Linked DNA regions of Homo sapiens: region 2 is linked to region 1. The links come from fine-mapping of genetic effects on gene expression. A gene starts in region 1. The other region holds a variant in brackets. All regions are shown on one strand. Distances are between the middles of the regions. Region 1 holds the start of LINC00865 (long intergenic non-protein coding RNA 865). Region 2 overlaps LINC01374 (long intergenic non-protein coding RNA 1374).

Region 1 (9,662 bases):
TTATATATTCACAAATAAAAGAACCATGATTAAGAGACTCTGAAATGCTTGGAGAAACACTGTTCTTGTTAACATTATAGTTAGGGGCAAATCACCTCCCAAATGAATTGTTGAAGATGCTATTGGCCTGAATGGACCATTGATCCAATCCAGAAAATTATCATTTCTTTTTGTTTTGGCTGGAAGGCTTAGCTTTTAACATTTTGACAACAATTATAGAGAAAGAGCAATATTGCTTATTTAGCATCCTGCTGAATTTCCTTATTGTAGAATTTTCATCTAGAGTTTGGGTAACTCTAAAATGCTTCAGAGGTATTAACAACATTGCAGTCTTCACCAAGTGAGGAAAACCTACAAAAAATGTGTGTGTAGGTGCAATGAAAAATTTTCAAGTCAATGTAAATGTGTTATAAGAGTGGAGAACCTGGAATTTTTAGAAGTAACTCAGCCCTAATACTTTCTGTCAAAATATAGAAGGCCACAGCTTTAGAAAATAAATACAAAACCTCAAACTTCTGTCCCTTTGAAGAATAAGAAAATATGAAACATAAAAATAAAATATCTGGAAAATACAGAGACATTTTGTTTTGCATCTTCATTTTCTTATTATTGACAAATTGAAAATTCCTGTTTTGTATTAAGCACAATGTTTGCTGTCATAAAACGTTTAAGCAGTGTGATCTGGGTTTATTTTTTGGAGTTGCCATCAGGGAGGACAGATTGCTTTTTTAAAAGTTACATTTCATTTTTTAAACCTTGAGCTAAAAAGCCTTTGGAGAATTGGGGGCACTGTCAGTGAGGTGCCTAACTCCTAGGGAATAGAAATAGAATGGCCTGGATGAAATATTTTTGTAAACTTCTCAAAATTCAAAAGTGTAACTATATGAATTTACTTTCTATTTAGTCCAGTGGATAAAAAGTGAAAGTTTGCCTTAAGGTTCAGAGTCTTGTGCTAAATTTGTTCAAAATTTCATGTGAAATAGTTACCAAATGGATACTTCCACCACACTTATCTACTTATGGTATCTGGTATTAAAAATAAAACCAAAGGAAGAAAAAGGCTGCTAATAATGGCAATGAAAACAGCTCATTCATTGGCTTTATTCCTTAGGCAAGGATTTCCAGAGCACCTTGATAGGTCTTAAGGATGTCAGATAGTGGGCATAGAGTGATGAGGAAGACAGGCACCATCCTTACCCTCATGGAGACTCTAGTTTAGTAGGAGAGGCAGGCCAAATGTGCAAAGGCCTGCAGGAGGCAGGAAAGGGACCTAAATTTGTGAAATGGTGTGAATTGATGGGAAGTGTGACAAACCAAAAAGAGAATGCACTGATTAAAGCTTTTCAAAAGAAATACTGTGTGGACCATGGAATGCATCTGTAAGCAGATTAGTCCTACATACCATTTGAAACCTCTACATTAAAGGAATAATTGCACAAATAACCATGCTAACCATGCAGGAAATAAGGACTATAAGGCATAATCCAAGATGTCATGAGAAAGTATAGTCATGATTCCTGACTATAATTCCTGAGGAAGTTGCATTTTACCAGAGACCCGAAAGATTTGATTAGTAGACTTAGTAGGCAGTAGGGACTGGAGACAGAAGATTTAAGGTGAATCTAACAGTAGAGGGCACAGGATATCTGAAACTTCCATGTGATTGGAGCCCAGTGAGTGAGGGGGGGAAGCAGCGAGGGATGAGCTGAAGTTTTAGGAGCCAGACAATGTAAGATTGAATAGGCTATGTTGAGAATTTAAACTTACTCTAAAACTAATGGGAATTTCTTAAAGGATTGTAAAAAAAAGGGAGGATTCGATCATATATATATATATATATATATATACACACATATATATGTATATATACATATATATGTATATATACGTATATATACATATATATATTACAAGCATGTTCTTATTGAGGTGTGGAGAATTCAGCAGAGGAAGAGGTCAAGGTGGGATGTGGATAGAACAGTTAGGAAGCTGTTGCAGCAGTTCAGGTGAAATGGACTGGGCTTTGGTCAGGTGGTTGGCCATTGAAATACAGAGACATTTTATCATTTGGGATTTGGAGTAGCTGTAACTGAAACTCCAAATTACAGTGGCTTGGACAGATATTTATTCCTCTCTCGCATAACTGAAATCTGTACATAGCCTAGAATTCAATTGGTGGCTCCACCATTCTTAGGGACCAGATTCCTTCCATTTTGTCAATACGTGACTTCAACCTCCTCATTGACGGTGGCTGCTTTAATTCCAGTCATGTTGTTTTCATCCCAGACAACGTGAATGATGAAGGGAGGAAAAAAGATACATCCCTTTCCTGTAAGAGAATTTCTAGAAATTATACGTGATGCTTGCAGTTACAGCTCATTGGAAAGCACTCAGTAGCATGGCCCCATGTGATTACAATGGAAGATAGACAATAAAATGTTTACTCTAGGTTACTACAGGTCTAGTTGAAAATCAGGACGTCTATGACTAAGGTTGAAAGGAACAGAAAACGTTGATAAATAGCCAACATCTGTAATACAAGTAGATAAAGTTGAGACTTGTTTTGGAAATAAAGTTAGCAGGATTTGATAACTGATTTAATGGGGGTTGGGTGAGGACAAGAGAAGGAACAAATCTCATTTCTACTTTTCTGAGACAATCAATGGTAGTACCTTTTTGGAAATGAAAAAAATGAAAAAAGGGGCAGGTTTAGGGCAAAGAACAAAAATTAATTAGCTGTTGGGAGCTTCCTCAAAATTATAGAGGGAGCAATTTATCAATTTTTTGTTGTTGTTCCATTCTAGAGATGTTTTATGCCCATATAGGAATGTGGGTGTGCATACCTGATATGTGTGTATACACACATATTTTATTTTTACAAAAATGGTAGGGTTTAATTATACCATTATATACCTAAAATCCTTTACTTGATATATATTGGGGATCTTTCCATATAATTGCATGAAGAAGTGCCTTACTATTTTTAATCATCACAGAGTATTTCATTGTATGGCTTTGCCATAATTTATTTAACCAGTTCTTATCTGTACATTTGTTTCTGTTTTTTTCAGATTATAAAAAATGCTGCAATGAATGTCTACACTTTAAAGTAAAATTGTTGGGTTTAGGGGCACATTATTGAAAATTTTGGCTTGCGTATTTTTTTCATAGAGGTGTCAGCAATTTCTACTCCCACTGGCAATATATCGGGATGCCTGTTTTCCTTTACTCTTGTCAACTCAATGTGTCAAGCTTTCTGATGGTTAAAATAATATTAGATTTTTGTTTTAATTTGCTTTTTCTTAGCAGAAATGAAATAAAACACTTCACATGTTTAAAATGTTTTATTTCTTTTTCTAAACATGTCCTCATTTTTGCTATTGGATTCTTATTTTCTTATTTAATTGAAGGAACTGGTTATACGTTAGATTATCTGTTTTGCAAATATTTTCCTGTTTATCCTTTTTTGTCCTCATAGTAAATTTCTTTCTATAAATTCAACTTATTTACTATGAATAGCTTCTTGTTATTAAGTAGGTTTAATACAGTTACCACGTTGGTTTGCATGCTTTAAACTTTATTCTCCTCTGTAAAATACATCATTTTACAGAAATGAGCTCATACTGAATATATCTTTTAGGTTTCTGCTTTTATTCTCACTTAATAATAAAAATCTTTCTAAGTCATTCATTGTTTTAACAAATTATTTTTAATTGTTTCATACATTATTCTGTCATTTGGAGTTAACAATAATTTACTCAAGCAACCCTCCCGCTGTTGCATAATTAGGTTATTTTCATTTAAAAAAAAACCGATATAAGCTACAGCCATGGTAGTTTCACTATGATAAAGTCCTCAAAGTAAAATTTGGAGGTCATTGTGCAAAAGTACTCTCCTTGTGCTTCAATGCTTCCCGCAGCTAGACCAAGCTCCGCGGGCAGGAGCTGGAGTCCAAGCTAGGGGAAAGAAGGACCTTCCGGGCCCATAAGGCGGGAGGCAAGGAGGGCCCCTGGGCAGCCCCGCGCTTGCGCGCCAATCACGGCCGTTATGGATTTCGATACGTTACCAAACGGTCTCCTACAAAGGCAGAAACCGTTTAAATATTTCAGAAGGATTGATTTTCATTTTGCAAATATAATACTGGTTCATTTTCTTTCTCTTCCTCCATCCATTCTACTATTGAACATAAAACGTGTCAATAGTATTGTAGTTCAGCATGTATCTCAGGATATTAAAAGGGCAGTGTGACTCAGCTAGAAAAGGATGAACTTTCCCCAAAGATAAAGTGACCTATGCGGTAAGTCCTACGGGACTTCATATCCTCATTGGAGAGAGGTTTAGGGTGTTTCTAGTTGTAGCAGGGTTAGTTGCACCTTAGGTTGAAGCAAGATTTTGCTACTGGAAATTAAATATGGTAAAAGGAGGTGCTCTCGGCCGCCAATTTGACAAGGGATGGACCGTGCTGGTTTTGTATCAACTGGCCTAAGCTAGAACTTCATTTCCATTATGTCTCCATATCAGGTTTGGCCAAAAGATATATCTATGCCAGATTTGGGAAGCAGAAGTGAAAGAGTAACCGTTACTCTGTGTAGCTGGTGCGGAAGGAGAGAAGTGTAGATGTACTGCTTGTGGGCTCTAGCTTGTCCTCGCCTGCCTCTGTCTTGACTCCAGCTGGTGTCCTTTTCTGCCTGCCTTGCTGACCAACAGCAGCCCCAAACCCACAGTCAATGCAGAGGCAACAGCCTTCCATGCACTTCTTCGCCAGCTCCTGTTGTGGTCTCACTCTTGCAACTGGATGTTCCCAGTTCTCTATATGTAACCTGTGACTTTTCCTTCACTTGACTACTTCAGGAGAGGTGAATAGAGACTTTTCTCCAATTCTCCACCTTCCAACGGTGGCCTTACTTCCCCGTCTCCTCCCACTATTGTGCAAGGTCTAATTTTTTAATCCTTAGACTATAAACTCTGTGGAGGTAGCCACCTGTTTAGTTTACAGCTATAGTCCCAGCGCCTGGCACCCAGAAGACACTCATTAAATGTTTGAAGAATTATTAAAGCCCCCAATAATTGATAGCCCTTATTATTTATCCAGTACTTAGATTCTCAAATATGAAACACGAACAACTTGGTTTCATTATCTGGCTTAAAAAGCTTATCAGGGAAAAAGTTTTTAAAAATATATTTTGGGCAGCATTTGAGTCATTTCCCGCACCCCCAAACCTATGTCAGTCGATAGGAAGTCTGAAATTGCCTTGAGTTCTGTAGGCAGGACACTTCAGTGGGCTGAAAAGTGTTGGGCTTATACCTCACTGCTCACTGCTCATCATAACTCTTCCCCTCTTTGCTTGGATTTTTTTTCTTAAATATGCCATGGTCAGCAAAATTTTTATTTCCTTTCTTCTGTAAAGTGACTTCTTTAAAAACCCTAATTATCTTATACTACCTAAGTTTTAAATTGTCTGAGAGAAATATTTTCTTTTTGTTTTACCTAAGAGTGTCTTTTCAATTTTCTTTTATTATCTTTTCAAAACCATATCACTCAACCATCTACAGCTTAGTGTGCAGCATTGTGGTATGAATATGTGGCTGGAAAGTCAGGGATTTAAAAGAACTATGAAATATATATTTTGACTTTTGGGGATAATTTTCTGGGAACAGATTTTTAAATACCTCAAGCCTTTTTTATATACTAATATCCTACCAAATATATGCCATTTTAGCAGCTCATAATAGTTATTAATAAAATATTATGGTTGTTATTCTATTGTTTAACTCTTCCCCCATGTCTTCTCATGAAAAGCTCATATACATAATGTATATTGTATTCTTCCATACTGACTATAACATATTGACTGTTCCTGACCCTTCTGTTTAACCAGTTTTAGCATTTTTCACTTTCCTCATTTTCAGTCATTCTTCTCTTTTTGAAGTATTCCCTGTTCACTTCCATCAGGTTGGAATTTCACTTTGGCCTCACAGTCTACTCAATCTCTTTAATGTCCCATGAGCACATCTTTCATGGCATCTAAGTAGGCTACCATGTAATTCAATCATTTTTCACACTTCTTAAATGTTAAAAAAATTAATACATAAACACTTAGAAAAGTAGAAAATTCTTCATTTAATTATATTAACTCTCAACAATCCTTAAAGTTCTTTAATTGTAAATTTCATTAAGGTAACTTAGGTTCTTGTTCATAAAGTCAAAAAGTTGTATGTCATGTAATGCAAATTACACCATTATCCACTCTTCTCCATCTCTGATTCTCACTCTCCAAAGGCAACAACTTTCATCTCTTTTAACTGTTTTTTTTTCTATTGTTTACTGTCACAAGCCTATAATATACCTCTCATACTATTTATTTTTCAGTTTGGTTCTTATCTATTGCCTTTCTTCTACAAAAGATGAGGAGTTGGCTGTCTTACAACTGGGCATGTAGCTTCTTCTTTCATTTCTTAATCTTGCAATATCATATTTTTAAAAATCTTATCAGTGTTTAGTGTTTATTTTGACAATGTAAATATTATTCACAGATGAACTTGTAGTGTATTAGGTTTACTTCTTTTTTGTAGACCTTTGCTTTTGTTTTTCCTTGACTATGCATTGCCTTGATTTTTGTTTAGTTAGTTTTCTAAGTAGTTATTATCAGTTCATTCTGCCAAATTCTGACAAGTCTTAAGTGCCTTTTGATACATTCAAATGAAACTATCCAGTTTCTTTTATTTTCCTTTTTTTCCTGGAGGCCACGGTCCTAGGTACATTGCCTTCATGAGCTCCTTCCTCCATAAAAAATAAAAATTATTTTACAGCCACGTTGGTATAAAGGTAAATATGATCAGGGTGGATTTATTATCATATAGTCACTGTTATTATATTAATTTTATCTCCTAATTTTAAAGGAAATTAAAATGACGACATTTTTGTAAATTCCTAACAGCGTCATGGGCCCTCAAGCACTATGCCTACTCAGCCTAATGGATGAGTCGGCCCTACGGAAGGCATTCTTTGCTTCTGAACCCCTCTTTTCTCCTGTTCCAATCTGGACTACTTATTCTGTAGGCCCTGAGATGTTTTCTTACTGTTATCCTGACAATTCAATTTTTTTCTCTCATATATTGGATCCCCTATTTCTGTGAATATGTGGCTGGTTTTCTTTCTGGTAGTACGCCTTCATTTTGATAGAGTGCATCTTTCAGAAGGCTCTGCTATAGCATGTCTGGAGGTAAATATGAGGCCTTGCATGTGAGATAAATGTTTCAATCTACTCTCATAATTGGTTGTATAGAGGAAGAGTAATCATTTTCTTCAACAGTAAGTTCTTAGTTGAAATGAACTTCTGTAATACAAGACAGATCAACAAGAGAAAAACAGAAGTGTATTAACATGTGTATTTCATACATACACCAGAGACACCCAGGGAATGAGTAGTTCTCAGAATTGGCTTTGAATTCTGGCTGATATAGCATCTTCAATAATGAACAGCAAATTTCTGGAGAGGTAAAGGAAAAGAACTTTAGGAGTGGCAACTTGTGGGAAGGCAAATGCATAGCAAATAAAGGCTAGCTAGTAATGTTTGTTAATGGAGATTTCCCTGGTATCATCTCCAGGTGGTAACAGTTTAAAGTTGTCTTATGTGGTTATCTTTTGGTCTCCCTGGTAGAAGGGAGGCAGAATACTTTTAGTTTTTGTATGTCCTGCTTTTAGGCAAATAGAGGGATGGCAGAGAGCTTCTCTGCATCTGCTTCTTCTTAATTACCTGCAGCTCAATAATCCTTTATATTTTGGAGTAGCACAACAGATAGTTTGGCTGGATATAGAATTCTGGGTTGAAAATTATTCACCTCCTAGATTTTTTAAAACTGCGTACATCATATATGTTCATTGTAAAGAATGAAAAACATATAGAAAGAAGAAAATAAACCAAGCCTGAATGCTGCACCCTAAATTAGCCATCAATATTCTGGGATCCTTATCGATAAGGGGGTCAAATAGTCTGTTTGGAATGTACCCTGTCACTTGCTCCCTGGTTTTCAGAACAGTCTTACTGCCTTTAGGGCGACTCTGGTCCTAAAGTCCAGAGCTTTGCTGAATTGACATCTCTGGAGAATAAACCAGTTTACTGCCAGTGGGGAGTGGATATGGACTGCTAAGTATTGAGACTTCCAGTTCCCCTATTTTTCATCTTACCTGTTCCACCATTGGGCACATGCCACCTCCAATTCAGGGCTTTTGAGGGATTTGCAGCAGAAACTACTCTGTTTATATTTCTGCCACTGCTGGCTTAGGTTTTCGCTTTCTCATCTTTGCTAAAAACTGCTAATAAAACATCTGCATTGTTGCTTCCAAAATTGTATTGCTGTTGTCTCTTTGCCACTTCTATTCATTCTGTGGTTTGACCTTTTAAATTAATATCTTTAGGATCCTTATAGTGAGCTATGGGAGGGAGTAAAGGTATATGTCCATGTTCATTTTCTGATGATTAGTGGGAAGTGTCTCATAACATTCTTGTATACATTTATTTTTTATTTTTTTGAGATGGAGTCTGACTGTCACCCAGGCTGGAGTGCAGTGGCCCAATCTCTGCTCACTGCAACCTCTGCCTCCCGGGTGCAGGCAATTCTCATCCCTCAGTCTCCTGAGTAGCTAGAATTACATGGACACCACCCTGCCCAGCTAATTTTTGTATCTTTAGTAGAGATGTGTTTCTCCATGTTGGCCAGGCTTGTCTCAAACTCCTGACCTCATATACCTTGACCTCCCAACATGCTGGGACTATAGGCTTGAGCCACCGTGTCTGGCCTTATATACATTTTTATACACTATTTTAGTGCTCTAGAATCCTTAGGGCAAAGTAACTATGTGTGTGGTATGTCTGTGTTAAGGATAAGATGGTATCAGCCCTAGAGTCTGATGCATAGTTGAGCCTTAATTTTATGCTATTACTATATTTATTTAATCAAAAACTTATCTTCCTTACTCCTTTTCCTCACATATAAGTAGCTTAAGTGTTAAAATATATTCTTTCTTCACACAATGACATTAAATCTATGTCAAAACAATTACCTTTCCAGGAACAAATAGAACCTGTCTTGCTTGGAACTTAAAAATAATTTTTCAAAATCCAGCAGAACATCTCTCCTTTTTGTAAAGCATGATTATGTCCTACCTACACACATTAGGAGAAACTATACCTTAAAAATATAGAAAATTTATGTTGGGGTGTGGCGATTCATGCCTGTAATCCCAGCACTTTGGGAGGCCTAGGCGGGCAGATCACTTGAAGCCAGGAGTTCAAGATCCACTGACTAACATCATGAAACCCCATCTCTACCAAAAATACAAAAATTAGCTGGGCGTGGTGGCACATGCCTGTAATCCTAGCTACTTGGGAGGCTGAGGCATGAGAATCACTTGAATCTGGGAGGTGGAGGTTGCAGTGAGCCAAGATCATGCCATTGTACTCTAGCCTGGGTGATAGAGCAAGACTGTATCTCAAAAAAAAAAAAAAGAAACAAACAAACAACAACAACAAAAAACAAAAAAACTGTATATATAGAAATTTAAAATATAAAAATTTATCATAGCTGTAGACATAAAAGTTATAAAAATAAATCTACAATCATTTCAGTTTTTATTAACTCATTTACTTCTGATACTAATT
Region 2 (9,662 bases), 58 kb after region 1:
CCTCTGGATCCTTCTGGAGAACAGAATCATGTGGGGGGGTTCTTAGGCTCTCATAAATATATTGTAACACTTCCACTTCCATAAGCCTTTTGACCATTTCCTCAAAATACAGTAACACAGTTTCAGCATCCCCATATATTTTATTCTAGGACATTGCCATGTCAAGCCTATCCCAGCAGCGTATTATGACCAGTTACAAAGGCTTTGTATGATATTAAGCCTTGAATCATAGAAAAGTACTCCTATGTTAATACACTTGCTTCTATCCAAACTTATATTCTATCTTCCTTGTCCAACATCCCTCAGCTCTATCTCCCACATTTTCCTCTAAATCCTGCCAGTATGTAGTAGCATTAGGGGTTTATGTTGAGGGGAAAAGAGGGTGAATATTGGGAAGGACAAATATCTGATGACATTTTTATAAGATCTCCCTCCAAGGAGGAGGAAGCTTTTCTTCTCTTACAAGGGGAAGGGATTTGATTCTGTCACCTCAGAGGTCTCAGGACATTCTGGTGCTTTACAATTCTCATCTGTGTCTATCCAGATGTTTCTAAGGTATCAAGATGCCTCTTTGGTTTTTTCTATTAGGACTTGAATTGCTACAAGCATATAATCTATACTGCAGGTATTTCATATAGGCATTAAGTGATTCAGAACCAACTAATTTTTAGCATCATAAAATTAGGGTTTCACCGGCTTGTAGTTTGACAGGATACTTATTTATAAAATGATTTTCACAACAATCTTTAAAGGTAGGTATGATCTCGATTCAACCTTGGAGGAAACTGAAGCTCAGTAAAATTAAGTGACTAGCCCAAGGATGCACAGTGATCAATTGCAAAGAATGAACTCTATTTTGTCTCTGAAGTATGTGCACTGCCCATTATGTTACATAACCTTTCTTTATAGCTCCTATCAAGTCATTCTACATAAGAAACATCTTATGTGGGAAACACTTCAATCTAGCAACTGGTTACTGTAATGAAAAGATATAGTGAAACTAGATACTTGAATTGACCAGTTTATATATTAATAATTTTGTGATGGATTCAATTAAAGATTTTATGAAAACCTTGGAAGAGTATGAAATAATTATACAGTGTTTATTATTTTAGCTCTCATTTATCTATTTTGGATACCTGAACTTATATGTTAAAGAACATTAAGTACATATAGTTAGGTTGGAACTCAGCTGGGATTCAACTTGTTTGCTGAAACTTCAGATACTATAAACTAGTATCCTGTGTAGTCAGAATTATATTATCTTGACTCATTAACTTTATTTAGCATCTATTTTATACTACATACTGATTTTATTAACTTCTAATCACTCTTGTTTCACTTGTTTGAGATAGGTAAAGCAGAATTTATCTGGAGTTTAAGATTAAGGCTGACAGATTAAATCTGCTTCTGTTATTGTTTGTTTCTGATATTAAAAGAGACTTCTTATTATGACCCCAGTCCATCCAAATTGTATACTATAATGGATTCTATATGAATAAATTAAGGGATCTAGATTTTAATAGTAAAACCATTTTATAGCAGCAGTAGTTTTATAAATGGATATTTTACCTCTTAAACAAAATGTAATTGGAAAATAAAATACACTGTCATTCAAATAACATCTCACGTTATAAATAATCAGTTTGGATGCAGCTACAAGATTTTTCTGGCACAGAAGTAAATTAAACACTTTAGTAAATTGTCAAACTGATGAAAATCCTAACCCTGTGCATGTTGTTTTAATGGTGTAAGAATATGGACAACAAGATGTTTTTGTTCTTTTATTTTTATCAGAGTAAATGGAAGAATAGTGTCACAGACAAAGGTTCTAGGATTTTCCTGGGAAAAGGAGGTTATAGCAGTTAGAAACGCCAGCAGTAGCTTACACCAATAATTTATTAAGATTTTTGTTTTTACATTATTGGCATTCCAGGGGTAGGTGGTTACTGTTGTAGGCTCATCTTCTCAACTCTCCCATCAGGGACCCAGTTACTTTCTATCATTCTGAACTGTTATTCTTCGCGTGTACACCTTCATTCTCCTGTTGGTTGCCTCACGGCTACGAGATGGCTGCTATAGGTCCAGCCATCAGGAAAAATGGGGAAGGAGCAGGACATGTAAGATCCTTTATCAGGCCACCTTCACATATATTTTCTAGACAAGGATTATATCACCGGGCCATATTTAGTTGCAAGGAGACTGGGAAAGTGAGGAACAGAATTGATTTGGCTAATCACAACTCATCTCCAGAGAATAGGCAATTTCTGCTTCCAAATAAAGTTGGATACTGTTCAGGAAGAACAGGCTGGATATAAACCGTTTGTGTTTTGGTCAGCAATATGTTCTGGTTTTGGTTTGGTGGGAAACAGGAAGCTTACTGAGGAAGGGAGACACCTGGAAGTAGTCTTAATCTGGCCATAAGGACCATGACACTCTAATATTATTTGATGGTGTGTGGGTTTCTTTTTTTCCAGAGACATCTATAAACATGGCTTTGTTACTAAGCCAAAGCCAATTATCTTTCAAAGTGATCTTCAGTTTGCTATTAGCTTCCCAGAAAGAACAGTATGATTATTAATAAGATTGAGACTAATAAACTACTGATGAGCACCAGTGAGCTAATTTGTAACCTCATTTTTATAAATGACATAAGCTTTTCACCCTAAGAAAAAGAGATATATTGAGAAGACAAACAAACAAAAAATCCAAAACTAATCTTCTTCCTCCAGACAGAATCTCTTCCTTCTTTTCTTCTAACATGAAATATTGTTGTTAACCAAATATTTTTCTTTTAAAATTCTAGGAATCACTTTTTGGAAATCTAGAATTAGTGAACTCAAATGGTTGTTAATGTTTTATTATTGAAATAGTGAAGCAAACTAAAATAATTAAAACTGATATGGATTACCATATTTATTAGCATATATTTCCTACATAATAAATAGTTTGCAGTTGATATGAGAAGAGAGGAAGCTGTGAGATTACCTGACTGGATGGACCTTTGCAGCACTGACACCTGCTGCTGAATTTCCAGAAATTTCTCCTGGCAAATCTCTGTGCTGAGAAAGGAGTAAACCAATTTAGAGAAGAGGCTTACGAGTCCAAACAGGAGCAGATGATGAAGAATCAGATAAACATTAACGCCTCAACCTACTTAAGCAACTAAGATTCAATTAAACCCAGTTCATACCTCTTTGGTAAGTCTGAAGTTTCAGAACACTTGCTCTAAAATTCAAATTACTGAGCTGTACAAATTATTTTTCCTCCAATTGTGTGATGAAATATGGGAAAGACAGAAAAAGACACAAATGCATATGGTAATCCAGAAAAGATTCCCCCTCCCTATTTTCTTTTGAGTTAGATAAAAGCTAGAGCACCTAACAGAATAAGATACCGAGAGAACCAGTGTAGTCATCCAAAACAATGAAACAACTATTTTAATTCATAAAAAAGCATCATTGTAGTAGCCTTCATTAGGTATTCCTTCTAAAGTCACTTTAAAGGAAAAAGAATATGTTCAGACATAGCAAAAGAAAAAAAACACGAAGGCAAAATTCCTTCAGATCAGGTTTTGGAGATTTTTTTTATATTAAACCCATTTTGTAAATAGGTTTTCCACCTGATTTAAACCAATCGTTTTGTTATTCAAAAGTCTAGGTTGTTGTTTTGCATTTTAAAATACAGCCATTCCCCAGGGAACTGTCTCTGCGATTAGAGGGAGAATTTTAAATTCCCCTTTCCACAGATAGATGTGTACAGGAAAGAACACCAAACTGAAAGAGCAGCTTGGCTCTGCCACCTATCAAATTAGGTAAATCTGTCTCCCTCTGGGTTTCACTCTCTCCTCTGTAATATGATAAGTACCTAGATTGGACTAGATGATCTTTCAGTTTCCCTCTCTGAGTCCGTTTGGGGGCTGCTATAATAAATACCATAGACTGGGTGACTTAAACAACAAACATTTATTTTGCACAGTTCTGGAGGCTGGGAAGCTCAAGATCAAGGTGTTGTTGATTTGGCTCCTGGTGGGGACGTGCTAGTTTTGGATACGGCTTGTTTATCCCTGGCAAATCTTATGTTAAAACTTGTGGTGGTGTTGGGAGGGAAAACCTAGTGGGAGATGCTTAGGTCATCATCAATGGCTTGGTGCAGTTCTTTCAGCAGTAAATTCTTGCTCTAGTGGGACAGGATTAGTACTCATGAGACTGAATTAGTTCCTGATACAGTGAGTTGTTATAAAACCAAGACAACCATTGTGAAACTGCCTTTGCAAAGATTATGACGTGAGAGAAGTCTGGCATGGCCGCCTCCGTCTTGCCTCTAGCATCACAGGCTGGCTGTCTCCGCTCATTCCTGGGCATGGACGAAGCTAACCATGAGAAGAATTTAGTTTACAGTTTAATTGTGAAGCAAGGATAATAATAGTCGCTTCCTAAAACTGATCC[G/C]CTCCTTGTTTGGAGACTGAAACAGTCTTTGTAAGACAATGAAAGGTCACAAGATTAGTATTCTGAGAGGGGCCTGAATTCTGCTAAAATGTAAGTATAGTTAAATGATAAACAGCTGTTGTTTCCTAGCTTGTTTTCCTATAATCCCTTACTGCTCAGGAGTCATGAAGCAGAGGCCACAGACTTGTAATTTCACCAATTGCTCCTACAGGTAACATCACTATCGCAGAATGTAAGATTGGTCTTTTGAGATTGTTTAGATTTTTGTATTCTGGTGACAAATTGATTTCACCTAGACCCATGCCTGATGACTCAATTGGTCCTGTGACCCCCTTCCAGAGGCTGACTCAGTGCACAAGAACCATTTTCCATACCTCTATAATTTCATCCCTAACCAATCAGTAGCACCTGATTTCTTATCCTAGCCCCCCCCCACCCCCCCCTACCCCCCCACCCCCCACAAGTTATCCATAAGAACCTTAGACTGAGTTCTTGGGGAGGCTGATTTGAGTAATAAGCTTCATCTTGGTTAGCCCTGTGTTAATCATAAGTCCTTTGCCACAAAAACCTGCTGTTAGTGCAATAGCTTTTTTGGGCAGTGGGCAAGATGAACCCATATGCTTGGGTTTGTTTCCTCTTTGTGTATGTTCACTTCTCCTTTAACCTTCTATGTTATATTTAGACCTAGCATATGACCCTCACCAGAAACTGAGCAGATGCTGACACCAGAACAGATGAAAAACTGACTTTTGAGGGAGAGGTTTGCATCTGTGGAGGAAATGAAGTGAAGTAAACAACAGATAGAAACAGGCTTTCTTTGAAGCCCCCCTTGTTGGGACCTGGGAAAGATGAATTGAGAGTCTGACAATTTAAAGCTCTGACAGAAATATTTACTGCTGGCTACGATTTATTTTTTTCTGAAGGCTGCTACCTGTGAGGTTTCATCTGCATAGTAAGACCCCTTTGCTAGTAAGGTGTTTCCTCTTCTCTTCCTTCCATAACCTGTTTTGCTACCATAACCTATTTTGCCATGCTCTAGAGCCCTCATTTCTTCTGTAACCTCAAGATGGTATAAAAGTGTCAACCCTCTTACATTTCTTTGAGTTTTAATATTTTATATGACTCTTGTGCACATATATGTATGTCATAAAATTTGAATGCCTTTTTCCTACTAATCTGTCTAGTATCAGATTGTTTTATAGACTCAAATTATTGAATCTTAAGGGGAAAAATGTAAATTTCCCTATAGGTTTATAGCTAGAAGGAACTTGCCTTGAGTCTCAAATGAGATGTTGGACTTTGGACTTTTGACTTGATACTGGGACTAGTGAACACTTTTGGAACTATTAGAAGAGAAAATTGTCTAATTGTGTTTTGAATGTGAGAAGGACATGAATTTTGGGGGGCCAGGGGCAGAATGCTATGGCTTGGTTATGGCTTGTTTGTTCCCACCAAATCTCATGTTGAAATTTGATCCTCAATGTGGCAGTGTGGGGAGGTGGGGCCTGTTGGGAAGTGTTTGGGCCATGGGGGAGGATCTGTCATGAATGGCTTATTGTTGTTCTCCTGGTAGTGAGTTCTCGCTCTAGTAAGATGGAATTAGTTCTTGCAGAAACAGATTAGTTCCTGAGAGAGTGAGTTGTTGTAAGGCCAGAATACTTCTTGATTTTAGTTCTGCTTTGCATGTGTCTACTTTTCCTTTGACTTTCTCTGCCATTTTTTGACGTAATATGTGGCCCTCACCAGAAGCTGAGCAGGTGCCTATGCCATGTTTCTTGTACAGCCTGCAGGATTATGAGATAAATAAACCTCTTTTCCCTGCAAACTACCCAGTCTCAAGTATTCTCTTATATCAACACTAAATGGACTAAGACAGGGCTCTTTTCCTGGTTTGAAGATAGTCATCTTCTTGCTTATCCTCACATGAGAAAAGGAGGGAGAGTTCATCTCTTTTGTCTCTTTTTATAAGAGGACTAATCCCATTCATGAGGGCTCTACTTTTATGACCTGATTACCTTTCAAAGGCCCCACCTCCAAATACCATCACATTGGGAATTAGGGTTTCAACATGTGAATTTGAGAGGACACACAGACATTCAATCCATAGCACTTTTTCAGCCTCAGTATTCTGTGTTTTCCAGTCTCTGTGACAGAGGCCTGTATGGTCTAGGCAGGCAACTTAATGGAAGAAAATGGGCAGGTTCAACTTAAGGCAAACTGAGGAGAGTGTGCCCAGGCTAAGGGACACAGCTACTACTCAGCTCAAGCCCACAGGTGTGAGCAAGATTGCAAGGCTCATGTTGTAATATCTTATTTTTCAGGGGAGACTGCTCAGAAGTCAATCTTTTTGCCCTTAAGTCTATTCTTCCACTCCCACCGCTTAGCTTTAAATTGTGCAGACTGACTCCTATAGGCTGCGGTTTCCAGATTCCATTTCAGCTGGCTTCTGTCTGGGTCCTACCAATGGGAGGCACTGGTGGGAGATGGGGGTGAGGAAAAAGGGAGAAACTTGGTTGTTTCTAACCCTGCCTCTCAGCCTTGAACAATGCCTCCAGCAACAGAAATATCTCCAAAATGACGCTAGCTTTTGAGAGACAGGCCTATTACAACTCCGGCTTCCACTGAGTGACCTTAGTTCTCTCCTCATCCCTTCCTTCACACCCTATATCTGCCTCCTCCTCTCTCTCCCGTTTCGATGTGACAGTGGCTTCCTTTTGTTGCTAATCTCTATGCTCCCTCACAATTCCCTGTTTATCAGTTCTCGCTTCACCTATATGACCAATTTTCTCCATTATGTACTTCGTGTGTCAAAGATTCAGAGTTATTTCTTTTCTCTGAGGTTGGACTCTGACTGATGTAGGCTAGAAATATAAATTCTTGCCTGAAATCTTCCCATTTTTAAATGCTGGTAGATTAGTCAGAATTCTCCAGAGAAACAGAATAAACAGGATATTAATTAATTAATTAATTTCTAAGGTATTTGCTCACATGACTATCGAGGCTGACAAGTCTATAATCTGCAGGGTGAGCTGGCAGACTGGAGATCCAGGAAAGCTGACATTCTACTTTCAGTCTAAAGGCAGTCTTCTCCAGAACCCAGAAGAGCCAATGTTGCAGATGAAGTCTGAAAGCAGTCTGTTGGGGAATTCTCTCTTCCTGGGGAATACTGGTCTTTCTGAAGGAGCTTACTCACATGGGGGAAACTTCCTTTACTCAAACTCTGCTCAAGGTTTCTCTTGCTCAAAAATACCCTCATAGAAACACCCAGAATAATGTTTGACCAGATATCTGGGCACAACATAGCCCAGCCAAGTTGACACATAAAATAAACCGTCACAACTGGCAAACAATTAAAAACACCCACTGGGTCAAAGAAAACATGACTTCAGCTTCCAGGTACATTTGTAACCTCTGTTCTCTAAATGTACATGATCAAACAAATAGACAAAGACAGATTTTGGCAAGCTTATAGAATTTCATGTCATAAGAAGTGTTCAATGTTGTATTCTCCCTAGGATAATTGATGCCAAGGAGTATTTGAGGAATATAAGCTGTGTGAGAAGAAGAGCCTCTGTTGTTGCAATCCTAGCACAGTGCCAGGCACTTAGTAAATGTACAATATATATCTGTTGAATGAATAAATAAAAGGAGTTAAATTTAATTGGATAGTTATTTAATTATCACCTGCTAGAGGCGAGGCACTGCATTAGGTGCTGTTGGAAATTCAAAGATGTGTAAGACACACCTTTGTCCAAATGCACTTGCAGTTTGATAATGCATGTAAGGCTAAGTGATAAAAAATTTTTGTTTCTCTTGAGAAAAAAATGAACAATGGATATATTATGGGCAATAGGTATTATATACTTAACCACATTTCCTTTTGATTTTGCTGTCTGGAAACACAGAGCTAAATTTCCTGTTCAAACCTGGCCGGAATACAGTAGCATCCTAGAGCCAGCTTACCTGTGCTTTTGTCCTTCTCAATAGTCCTTCTCCCTTCTGCTTACCCACCTGTTCTAATGCACATACCCCTAGGATTTTACTTGAAAAATAAACCTTTTATAGTTTTGTTGATTGGAGTCTCTGTAAGCTGACCCAGATCCTTTGTGGAATCAGGTAACCTGAAGTTTCTCGTGATTCAAAGGAGAAGTGACTCTGGCTCTTTGGATTAGGGAAGTGTTTATCCAAAGGTGGCATCTCATAATTTTAATTTCCATTTCCCTGATGATTAGTGATGTGGAGCATTTTTCTTACATTTCTTTGCCATTTGTATATCATCTTTTGTGAAATGTCTATTCATGTCATTTGCCCACTGTTTGCTAGGATTATTTATTTTTTCTTGCTGATTTGTTTGAGTTCTTTGTAGATTCTGGATATTAGTCCTTTGTTGGATGCAAATCCATTCTGGGGTTGTCTGTTTACTCTATTATTATTATTATCATTATTATTATTATTTTTGCTGTGCAGAAACTTTTTAGTTGAATTAAATCCCATTTTTTTGTTGTTGTTGTTGCATTTGCTTTTGGGGTTTTAGGCATAAATTCTTTGCTTAGGCCAATGTCCAGAAGAGTTTTCCCTAGTTTTTCTTCTAGAATTTTTATGTTTTCTGGTCTTATATTGAAGTCTTTAATCTATTTTGAGCTGATTTTTGTATGTGGTGAGAGATAGGGATCCAGTTTTATTTTCTTACATGTGGCCATTCAGTTTTACCAGTACAATTTATTGAATAGGGTGCCTTTTGTATACTTTGTCAAAGATTAGTTGGTTGTAAGTATTTGGATTCATTTCTGGGCTCTTTTTTTTTGTTCCATTGATCTATGTGTCTACATTTATACCAGTACCATGCTGTTTGGGTTACTACAGCCTTGTAGCATAATTTGAAGTCAGGTAATGTGATGCCTTGGTATTTCTTCTTTTTGCTTAGGATTACTTTGCCTATTCAGGCTCTTTTTTTGGTTCTGTGTGAATTTTAGGATTATTTTCTCTAATTCAGTGAAAAATGATATTGATATTTTGATAGAGATTGCATTGAATATGTAGATTGCTTTGGCAGTATGGTCATTTTCATGATATTGATTCTTCCAATCCGTGAACATGAGATGTATTTCCATTTGTTTGTGTCATCCATGATTTCTTTCAGCAGTATTTTGGAGTTGTTGTAGAGGTCTTTCACCTCCTTGGTTAAGTATATTCCTAGGTATTTTATTTTATGTA

What was found. PIP is the estimated chance that this variant, and not a neighbour inherited with it, causes the effect.
Region 2: its variant is the best candidate, but not a certain one, in a credible set for the expression of LINC00865 in whole blood (TOPMed, PIP 0.53).

Annotation. Positions count from the first base shown.
Region 1 is chr10:89,825,449-89,835,110 of GRCh38, forward strand. LINC00865 (long intergenic non-protein coding RNA 865) reads left to right here and starts at 4,045. Exons shown (of 4, transcript NR_038382.1): 1 at 4,045-4,297; 2 at 4,522-4,856. LOC105378424 (a long non-coding RNA gene) reads right to left here and starts at 5,373. Exons shown (of 3, transcript XR_946196.3): 1 at 4,584-5,373.
Region 2 is chr10:89,883,750-89,893,411 of GRCh38, forward strand. The region is part of intron 1 of LINC01374 (long intergenic non-protein coding RNA 1374); the gene reads left to right. Among named protein-coding and RNA genes, the nearest start is that of LINC01374, 35 kb to the left of the region's middle. The variant G/C (reference allele first, on the strand shown) is at 4,449.